Linked DNA regions of Homo sapiens: region 2 is linked to region 1. The links come from fine-mapping of genetic effects on gene expression. A gene starts in region 1. The other region holds a variant in brackets. All regions are shown on one strand. Distances are from middle to middle.

Region 1 (5,000 bases):
AACAGAACCCCCAAACTGAAAATTAGCCTTGGGTGTTTCATAACTTAGGACCAACTCAGAAATGTAGGCTTTGGAAAGCAAATAACTGTGATCCAATTTTCGGGAAGCAGGTTTGTCTTTTATGGCAAAGAAGAGTGATCCCAGTTTTAATTACAGGCATTGAGTGTCCCTAGCCAAAACTCAGTCTGAGGTGTTTCAGCATGGAAGATCATTTGGGAAAGCTGGGTTTGCAGAAAGCACGAGCAATAAAGACATAACATATAAACAGATATTCTGCACGTAGTTTGCAAAATCTTAACCTCATCAAAAGAAGAGATCAAAATTCTATTTAATGCAATTGGAGATTAAGTTGCAGAGTACAATTTAACTGAAATACAGTACCACATTCATACTTCAAATGGTTTATCAAAAGAAAGACTAAAAAAGACTGGTTATGTGTCTATATAAGGTTTGCTCTTCTCTTTCTCTCTCTTTAATTAAAAAAAATATATATATATATAATATATATGTATATATATAACCAAGGCAAAAAGTAAGAGGTTGATGCTCTCTGTCCAAACCTCTCTTCTCTCTCTTTTTTTAAATATGTGCTTAATATATTCCTATCTTCCCAATATTTTAATTAAGAACAATGTTTGCACACATTTAAATGAGTGACATCTTTGCTTAAATTTGTTTTTGACTAATTATTTTCCACGTGTTTTCACCTTCCAACACTACCTTAGTCCTAAGTTATGAAATACTCAATGCTCTTCATAAAATATCTTGAAATAACTTTTTATTTCAAAATTAAAATTAAATCACATAAAAGTATGTTCTTAAATAGACTATAGTTTTCTTAGATCTTGTTGAGATTAAAAACAAGTGTGATCTGGCCCTGGCCGGGGGTGGTGGCTCACGCCTGTAATCCCAGCACTTTTGGAGGCCGAGGCAGGTGGATCAGGAGGTCAGGAGATCGAGACCATCCTGGCTAACACGGTGAAACACCGCCTCTACTAAAAACTACAAAAAAATTAGCCGGGCGTGTTGGTGGGTTCCTGTAGTCCCAGCTACTCAGGAGGCTGAGGCAGGAGAAATGCTTGAATCCAAGAGTTCGAGGTTGCAGTGAGCCGAGATCGCACCACTCCACTCCAGCCTGGCGACAGAGCGAGACTCCGTCTCAAAATAAATAAATAAATAAATGAATAAATAAACAAATTACCTTTAACTTAGTATGACCATTTTGGATTGCTGTAAAATATTCCATAAAATAGTAAGAGCCTTCAAATGTAACTTAGAGTAAATGGGCAAATATTATTTTTCCTATTTACAGAGATATCTAATAGCCCAAACAAATATTTGAAATCAAAGTTATATTTGAATGCATTTCTGAATAGATGAAGGGATAAACAGATAGTAATATAAAGGAGTTCTGCAATGCTATGTCTATAGACCTCATGCCAAAAATGGGGACATGAGTCAAGTCTACCTAACATGTTTCTATTTTCTAAAAAAAAAAATTTAAGTACTTTAAATGCTTATGCTTTGAATAAGAATAATTGCCATTTCAAAAAATGTAACTAAATATGTATGCATGCATCTGTGTGTATACAGAGACAAGCAGTGATTTATAATTTTGAGAAATACGATATTCTGATTCTGATTAAAATAGCTAAAATTCACAAATTCAAAGTTGTGAAACTAAAAAAGAAATTTTTTTAGACTTGTGGATTAAAATCTTGGCATTCTACTCATTTAACTGTATTTATCTATGGCATTTTCATTTGGCATAATTTTCATATATTTTGTAATAATATCACATTGGCTGCATAATATGAAGTCCCTTGAAAGAAACTAGATTTCAATTCTGTGGAAGAAATAATTTATGATGTAAGAGTTGTGATTATACAGCCAATATGAGTTAATTCTTTAAAAAAAAAAACTAAATTGATCAAGCAAAAAAATGTACTCACTTGTTTGAGAATGTCAATCATTTTCAATTAAATTATCTAGATGTTTCCCAGGTTTCAGCTGATATATTTTTCTTAGGAAATAATATTTTATCTCATTAAATTATTTCTCTTGAATACAAAAAATCTTTATTTAGCCATCAGACCAAAAATAAATAAATAAATAGGGACAGCTCAGAAGGAGTGAGCATAGTTCTTTCTCTTCCAAACATACAGGTGGAACGTATAGTGCTAACAGGGAATATTCTGTGACATCATAATTTTGGGCACTGAATTTTGATTGCAGTGTGTTCTTCAGAGTCAGGCACCTCCAAGTCTGCCTCTTAATACTGCCAGCTGATGCCTCTAAGCCTCAGTTTTCACATCAGCCAATGTGACCACTATTACATACGTCATTGTGCTACTGTCAGGATGACATAAAGATGCTGCATAGAACACGTTTAGCCCAAAGCCTGGCACGTGATAAGAATACAATAAACTATACCTATAGTCAGGGCAACAGAAAGACAAGAATTGATATGGTCAAAATCATAAACCCTCTTTTTGTCCTACGGAAGGCACAGGCAAGAATTTGGATGACACATGGTGGTGCTTCTGCCCTTACTAGTGACCTAAAACCAATCTGCCAAAGTATAATGATTGAGTTTTGCAGAACTGTTGCTAAGAGATATATAGGTGTATATGTACATGTATACGTATATAAACATATACACACACCTATGTATATATAAGCCATATCTACACACCTATGTATATATAAGCCATATCTACGCACCTATGTATATATAAGCCATATCTACGCACCTATGTATATATAAGCCATATCTACGCACCTATGTATATATAAGCCATATCTACACACCTATGTATATATAAGCCATATCTACACACCTATGTATATATATAGGCCATATCTACACACCTATGTATATATAAGACATATCTACACACCTATGTATATATAAGCCATGTCTACACACCTATGTATATATAAGCCATGTCTACACACCTATGTATATAAAAGACATGTCTACACACCTATGTATATAAAAGACATATCTACACACCTATGTATATATAAGCCATATCTACACACCTATGTATATATAAGCCATATCTACACACCTATGTACATATCAGCCATATCTACACACCTATGTATATATAAGCCATATCTACGCACCTATGTATATATAAGACATATCTACGCACCTATGTATATATAAGCCATATCTACGCACCTATGTATATATAAGCCATATCTACGCACCTATGTATATATAAGCCATATCTAAGCACCTATGTATATATAAGCCATATCTACACACCTATGTATATATATAGGCCATATCTACACACCTATGTATATATAAGACATATCTACACACCTATGTATATATAAGCCATGTCTACGCACCTATGTATATATAAGCCATGTCTACGCACCTATGTATATATAAGCCATGTCTACACACCTATGTATATATAAGCCATGTCTACACACCTATGTATATATAAGCCATGTCTACACACCTATGTATATAAAAGACATATCTACACAACTATGTATATATAAGCCATATCTACACACCTATGTATATATAAGCCATATCTACACACCTATGTATATATAAGCCATATCTACACACCTATGTATATAAAAGACATATCTACACACCTATGTATATAAAAGACATATCTACACACCTATGTACATATCAGCCATATCTACACACCTATGTATATATAAGCCATATCTACACACCTATGTATATATAAGCCATATCTACACACCTATGTATATATAAGACATATCTACACACCTATGTATATATAAGCCATATCTACACACCTATGTATATATAGGACATATCTACATACCTATGTATATATAGGACATATCTACACACCTATGTGTATATAGGACATATCTACACACCTATGTATATATATAGGCCATATCTACACACCTATGTATATATAAGACATATCTACACACCTATGTATATATAAGCCATATCTACACACCTATGTATATATAAGACATATCTACACACCTATTTATATATAAGCCATATTTACACACCTATGTATATATAAGACATATCTACACACCTATGTATATATAAGACATATACCCACAGCGATTTTCTATCACGTTCGTTTTTAATCAAATAATATTAGTCAAAAATAAATACGTGTTTGTTTTATTATTCCTTTGCTTAGTTCCTGCCAGTACTAGCTGGCTTTTCTAGTGGAAGGCTGATCACTTTTTCCATAAATCCATTTAATCCAATCAGTCTTGGCAGGATTGAGACATGTTCTCAGTGGAGGTCAAGATCTTGTTTCCTGGTCACTAAGAGCATGGGATAATAGTAAACTCCAGAACCATTTGTAAAATACTGTCAGTCAGACAAATCCAAATACCTGTCATGTGCCCAGTAAGTTATTGAACTTTAAGAGAATAAAGTATGACCCTTATTATTGTGTTTCTAATCTTCTCAGAAAGGGAAAAAAGACTATATATAATTAGTGCTCAGCTGTACAATTCAGCATATAAGTAGAAATTATTTCACTATGAAATCAGATAATTGAGACAAAATTTTAGATTGAGTGAGTAATAATAGCCTTATCTTCTTTTGCCCTTTATCCTCTTCCCACATTTAAACTAGGAAGAGAAATGAAACAAGTCACCTGTGGATGTTATTGGAGAGTATTGGATATGATTCTTTGCTCTTACCTGGTGCTCTTTCACCCCACCCCTAACTTTCTCCTTAACTCTCTGGCAATTCCATGCAAGGCCACCTAAAATACCCCTTTCTCAATAAAGATTTTCCTGAATTCCCACCTAAAAATAATTTCTTCCTTCTCTGCCTTTCATAGCACTTTATGTGTGCTGCTCCATTTGTGACCCATGTGTATTCTGTTTTAGTTATTTATCAGGGGAAATTCAGCCAGATATCGGGCAAAATTCACCCTCGATATTTCATGTAGGTTCTTTTCTGTTTTCCCTAAGCATTGGCCAGTTTGGGAAATAAAGGGACAGAGTAC
Region 2 (5,550 bases), 700 kb before region 1:
GGGAAGAGCATAATAAAAGTGGGAACTACTCATTCATAACGCAAACGTACAATGAGTCCTTATTATAAAGCATAGCACTAAAAGCTGGTACTGCAGATGGGAGCAGTAAGCAGGCAAGAAAATCAATGTAGATAAAAGAGCAGCTATTTAGAATAGAGGGTGCAGGTTGGGCCAAAAACAAAAATAGAATAGGAGAAATTCTCTCAAATCTTCTATCTCCCCACTATTGCCACCCCCTAGTCTAAGCCATTGTCATCTTCTGCTTGGAGTGTGAGCCCTCCACTGATCTGCTAACAGACGCTTTGGCCCCCTTCCAATCTGTTCTCCTCCTTGCACTCATCTTTAAAAAACCCAGGCTGATCATAACACCTCTCTGCGTGAAACCCTTTCATGGCTTCCCATTGTGAGATACAGACAAAACTCTTAAGCTCATGTTCAAGTCCTGCTGAGCCAGGTTCTTGTCCCCTTTCCACCTCATTTGCACCATGTTCTTCCTCCTGAGTTGTGTCTCAGCTACGAGCTTATCCTCCTTTTGTCCCTTGTGGTCACCACGCTCCTTCCAGAGACAGAGAATCCGCAACTGTAATTACTTCTGCCTGGATCACTCATCACATATTCGGTTTCTACACTTCCAGAGTAAATGACCACTTCCTCTCAAGGTGCCTCCTTGCCTCCTTGTTTAGATCCATTCCCCAGTGATGGGTCTGCCATACCTCACCTTTGAGGCAGTTTGACATGTTGGACTGTGATATTTGCTTATGATTCTCTCTCTCACTAAAATGTAAATTCCCTGATGGGAGGGGACCTCATCTGATTTGAGTCTCTGTGGTGTTCTCAGCACCTGAAACACAGTAGCCTCTCAAAAACATATGTAGAAAAACAAATAAAGCAAATAATGAGAAATAAGGAAATGCCACTCTAAGACTGCCCAGAGAAATCTTCTCAAAGGCACTGTACTGACAGGACATTGGGAGAGTTTACAAAATAACTTACCTGTGTCTGCTTTTCTGTTCTAGGTGAGCAGAAATTCTATTTTTTTAACTACAACTCTCTAAAAGATATCAGAAGTCACTGCTAATCTGGGGCTTTCTAAATCTCTTTTATTAAAACAGCTTGAAATTCTGGGCAGAAAAACAGTATTTTTTTCTATGAAAGCAAATAATCTTATTTAGATGTTATTCAATTTGGTCTGTAAACCAAGGAATATGCCCATAGTCTATTACACTAACTCAGGAAATCGTTGGTGGTCTTTTGTCTCCCAAGCTGTTTTTTTTTTATTTTTATTTGGCCTTATAGATGTGACTGTGGAAGACAATATGGCAATACAGCATAAAATCTATGTACTGCAAGCAGATTTAGCTGTTTTCTCACCAAATGTTGTTATGTTCATTAAGACACAGCTATCATCAAAACAAAACAAAATAGTTATTCAAGAAGCAGGTTTGAAATACAATCTAGTATTACATTTCTGATAACAAGAATAAATCACAGCTCTGATGAGTTCCATAAATAGATTTTGACTTCCTTTGTGATTTTTGAATGACATCCTTAATTTATTGCTTACATGTGATTTATTTAAAGAGATTGCTACTAATGTATTAAAGACTCCAAGTTTGAGAATGTTTAATCATCTCCCATATCATCCATCACCAAGACAGAATGTTGTGGGAGGGCACATACTGGCTTCCAATCGACCTTCTGAAGGGCTGGAGAAGATGGTGTTTGCTCAGTTCCGTAAGCATCAGCTGTTACCATCAAATGGCAAGCATCGTGCTAGACAAAAAGAGGTATAAGCAAGAATGGTAGAAAGATCATGACTTGAAGTCACTTCTTAAGAATTATCTCACAGACCTGAACTTTGCTTTATTCTCAACGTTGCAGATTAGATTACACCAAGTTGGTACCCGAGGACTGATGGCCTAAAGCGTGTGAAAGCGTCCAGCACAGTCCCTGGCACCTCACAGTAATACAAGTGGACCATAAGTGTTGAGAACGTGAATTTGTGCCAATTTCCCCAAAGTTTATTTTAGGGAGTTTTCTACTTAGAAAATCATATTAAAGGCCGTTTCTCTTATAAGTCAATTTCTCTAAAAATGAAAACTTGCAAATTCATATCTTTTTCAGGGCTTTACTTCCAAAGAATTATGATTTGCTCTGATGAGGGAGATCTTAAACATACAAAACTAATTGCAGACCGGATTTCGCAGTATTCACTGAGGTCCAAAGTTTTAAATCATTTTCATAAATTATAGTGGAATGAAGGAAGGGAAATGATGTGATAGCAGAGATGGTTATTTTTGTGACTTCTTATAAGAAAAGTGTTTTATTCTTCACAATTACTCATCTTTTGGGAGCAGGACCAATCCTTTATATGGGAAAGACAACCAATTATGGTGTCTGATTGGAAGGGCACAGAAAGGTCTCTTTTCTACCCCAATCAAGAAATAGCCTTCTGATTGGTCTGCCACTGTCTCTGACATTACAATTATGATGGCTTGGTCTAAAGACAAAAATCCACTCTAAAAATGCAAGTACACTCTCCAGCAAAGGTAATATTTTATGTATGTACTAGATATTAATGTTTTTAAAAACACTCAAAACTCTAAATTTGCTGATCCATTAACTTGTCCTTGAGGAAATGGGTACCAGAGAAGGTTCCAGTCCCTATAATATATTCAGTCACAACTGGATGACCACATGTTAGTGATATTACAAAGATGGCTGTCGCGCTGACCAAAGCATCACCTGGGATTCCATCAACACTGGTCTGGGCACTCCCTGAGGGCAGGGGCTGTGTTTTCCTCCTGGAGTGTCCCAGAATGTGGGACTCTGTAGTCTTTTCTTTTTTTTTTCTTTCTGTTTTTGCTTTTTCATAAAGACACTAATCCCTTTGTCCTTTTTACTGAAGTGAGAATACACCT[A/G]ATAGATTTAGTTGGCTTGTGCTATTATTTTTCTTTTTAAAAACATCTACTGCTTTTATTCAAACTTGTCTGTATGAGTACATACGATCTCCTATTCTTTGCCATGCTACACTTCTATGCGTCAGACAAATTATAAAAAAATCGAAGTCACAAAATGAGATATGGTTAGAAAAGCTTGACAATGCTGTTATATTATTTGATACATACTTTGAAGTATAGAGTATGAACAGTGTGCCATCTATGCTGTTAGTTAACACCTGAAGAAATCTTATTGGAAACTCACTCTCCAAAGTTGACTCCTGCACATGCTTCAAAATATTGTTTTTCTACCTTCCCCAGAGAGTTTCATTTGCCTGGGGAGGGCCAGAAGTAATTTTTCACTGGGGAAATGATTTGTGTTCCAGGAATGAGATTAGACAGTAACTATAAGAATCAGCCAAACCCAAGAAGACATTTATGCAGCCAACAAACATATGAAAAAAAGCTCATCATCACTGGTCATTAGAGAAATGCAAACCAAAACCACAATGAGATACTATCTCACGCCAATCAGAATGGCGATTATTAAAAAGTCAGGAAACAACAGATACTGGAGAGAATGTGGAGAAATAGGAACGCTTTTACACTGTTGGTAGGAGTGTAAATTAGTTCAACAATTGTGGAAGACAGTGTGGCAATTCCTCAAGGATCTAGAACCAGAAATACCATTTGACCCAGCAATCCCATTACTGGGTATATATCCAAAGCATTATAAATCATTGTACTGTAAAGACATATGCACACGTATGTTTATTGCAAAGACTTGGAACCAACCCAAACGCACATCAGTGATAGACTGGATAAAGAAAATGTGGCACATATACACCATGGAATACTATGCAGCCACAAAAAAGGATGAGTTCATGTCTTTCGCAGGGACACGGATGAAGCTGGAAACCATCATTCTCAGCAAACTAACACAGGAACAGAAAACCAAACACCACATGTTCTCACTCATAAGTGGGAGTTGAACAATGAGAACACATGGACACAGGGAGGGGAACATCGTACACCGGGGCCCGTTGGGTGTGGGGGATAAGGAAAGGGAGAGCATTAGGACAAATACCTAATGCATGTGGGGCTTAAAACCTAGATGATGGGTTGATAGGTGCAGCAAACCACAATGGCACGTGTATACCTATGTAAAAAACCTGTGCATTCTACACATGTATCCCAGAACTTAAAAAAAAAAAAAAAAAAAAAAGAATCAGCCAAACCCTGTAACACATCTCTTGTCAGAGTCCTGAATTAAAAGACCACCTAAATGGAAGGAAAAAAAGCAAGGCTTTACTCCCTGATAGCAGGGGGTGTCTGAAAGGGAAACTGCCCTGTTTTCAGGCAGGTAGCAGAGGCTTTATACATTATAGGCTCAAAAGTTAATCAGGAAAAAAAAAAAAGAAGACAACAAGAATGTGATGTATGGGGCAAGGTAAATTCTCAGTTCTTAGAAGTTGATTGTCTACAAATAAGAAAATTTGGGAAATTACACTCTGTGGGTTCAAGGTTAGCAAGAAAATTGGGCATTTAAGGGAGTCCGGGAGAGCGCATTTTGTGATTTTGGGTTTAGCAAGAAACACTTAGGTTAGGGTCTTACAAATCTTGGTAGTGGTAGTGGTTGTAGTAGGAACTGCAAATTTAGGTCTTATCCCTTTGCATACCTGTGCCATGGTGTTTCAGGTCTGGATTCAGCTTGGTCTTGTGCCCTCTTCCTCCCCTAAATCTGTTACCTGATCTGACAAAAGGACTAGCAGATACTGCTTTCGGAGCATTGTTGAGCTGGCCTGGGAGTTTCACTTTTCATTCCAGGGGCTTGATGGTTTGTGTTAGGAGAGAAGCTGGGGCACCTTAGACTTATCAAAACAAGTGGTGGGACTGATCTTGTGTTTGCCGTATTTGTACGAGTGGCAGAATTCTATCTGAAACTTATAAAAATTATAGCAAAGCATCTGGTGGCAATACATCTGCAGGAGCAGATCTATTGCTAATCACTGGAGGCTCCCTGTGTTTAACAAACAACTTACACATGGGCTTAGGTCAGTTCACAACCAGTCTGGACAGAGAAAGGAAGCGAAGAGATACAGGGTATAGCTGGGGCTGACACCATACTTGGACTATTGGGGTCTTCATAATAACCCTACAAGATAAGAATTACAACCCCATTTTGTAGGTGAGGAAATCCGGACAAAGAGGTTAAGTGATTTTCCGAGGGTCAGAACCAAAGTTAAAATCTGAAATGAGTTCTGTTTAACAGTCTTTTATTCCAAAGCCTAAACACTTTCCACCAGGAACATGTTCCCTCTCATTTTACAGAAGAAGGGATGTTTGTGATTTCATCTTATAGAATAATAGTATATGGAGAAGAGCATTTTAATTTAGCATTCATCCTTATTTTTCTAATATTTGCTCACAATGTAAATGACGCTATGAAAAATAAAGTTATAGTTAATTTCATGTTTGTCAGCTTGTGGAGATTTCCAGATGTGGTTAAAAAGAAAATGTATTATTTGGCTATTTATGGTTTAAAATTTAAGCTCTTGGGGCAATCTGAATTGTTTGGGGTTTACAAAGCCCTTGCTTCTTTCTTGCTCAT

Alleles and levels. Positions count from the first base shown, and alleles are read on the strand shown. Sizes are in standard deviations (SD) of each study's normalised expression.
As copies of A replace G in region 2, the expression in CD4 T cells of the gene that starts at base 2,176 in region 1 goes down (large effect, 1.7 SD a copy in CEDAR).

Evidence for each region. PIP is the estimated chance that this variant, and not a neighbour inherited with it, causes the effect.
Region 2: its variant is the best candidate, but not a certain one, in a credible set for the expression of DPP10-AS3 in CD4 T cells (CEDAR, PIP 0.67).

Annotation. Positions count from the first base shown.
Region 1 is chr2:114,831,373-114,836,372 of GRCh38, forward strand. It overlaps DPP10-AS3 (DPP10 antisense RNA 3), which reads right to left and starts at 2,176. Exons shown (of 2, transcript NR_132105.1): 1 at 1,953-2,176. All of the region lies in intron 1 of DPP10 (dipeptidyl peptidase like 10), which reads left to right.
Region 2 is chr2:114,128,439-114,133,988 of GRCh38, forward strand. No RefSeq gene overlaps it. Among named protein-coding and RNA genes, the nearest start is that of LINC02992, 150 kb to the left of the region's middle. The variant A/G (reference allele first, on the strand shown) is at 2,922.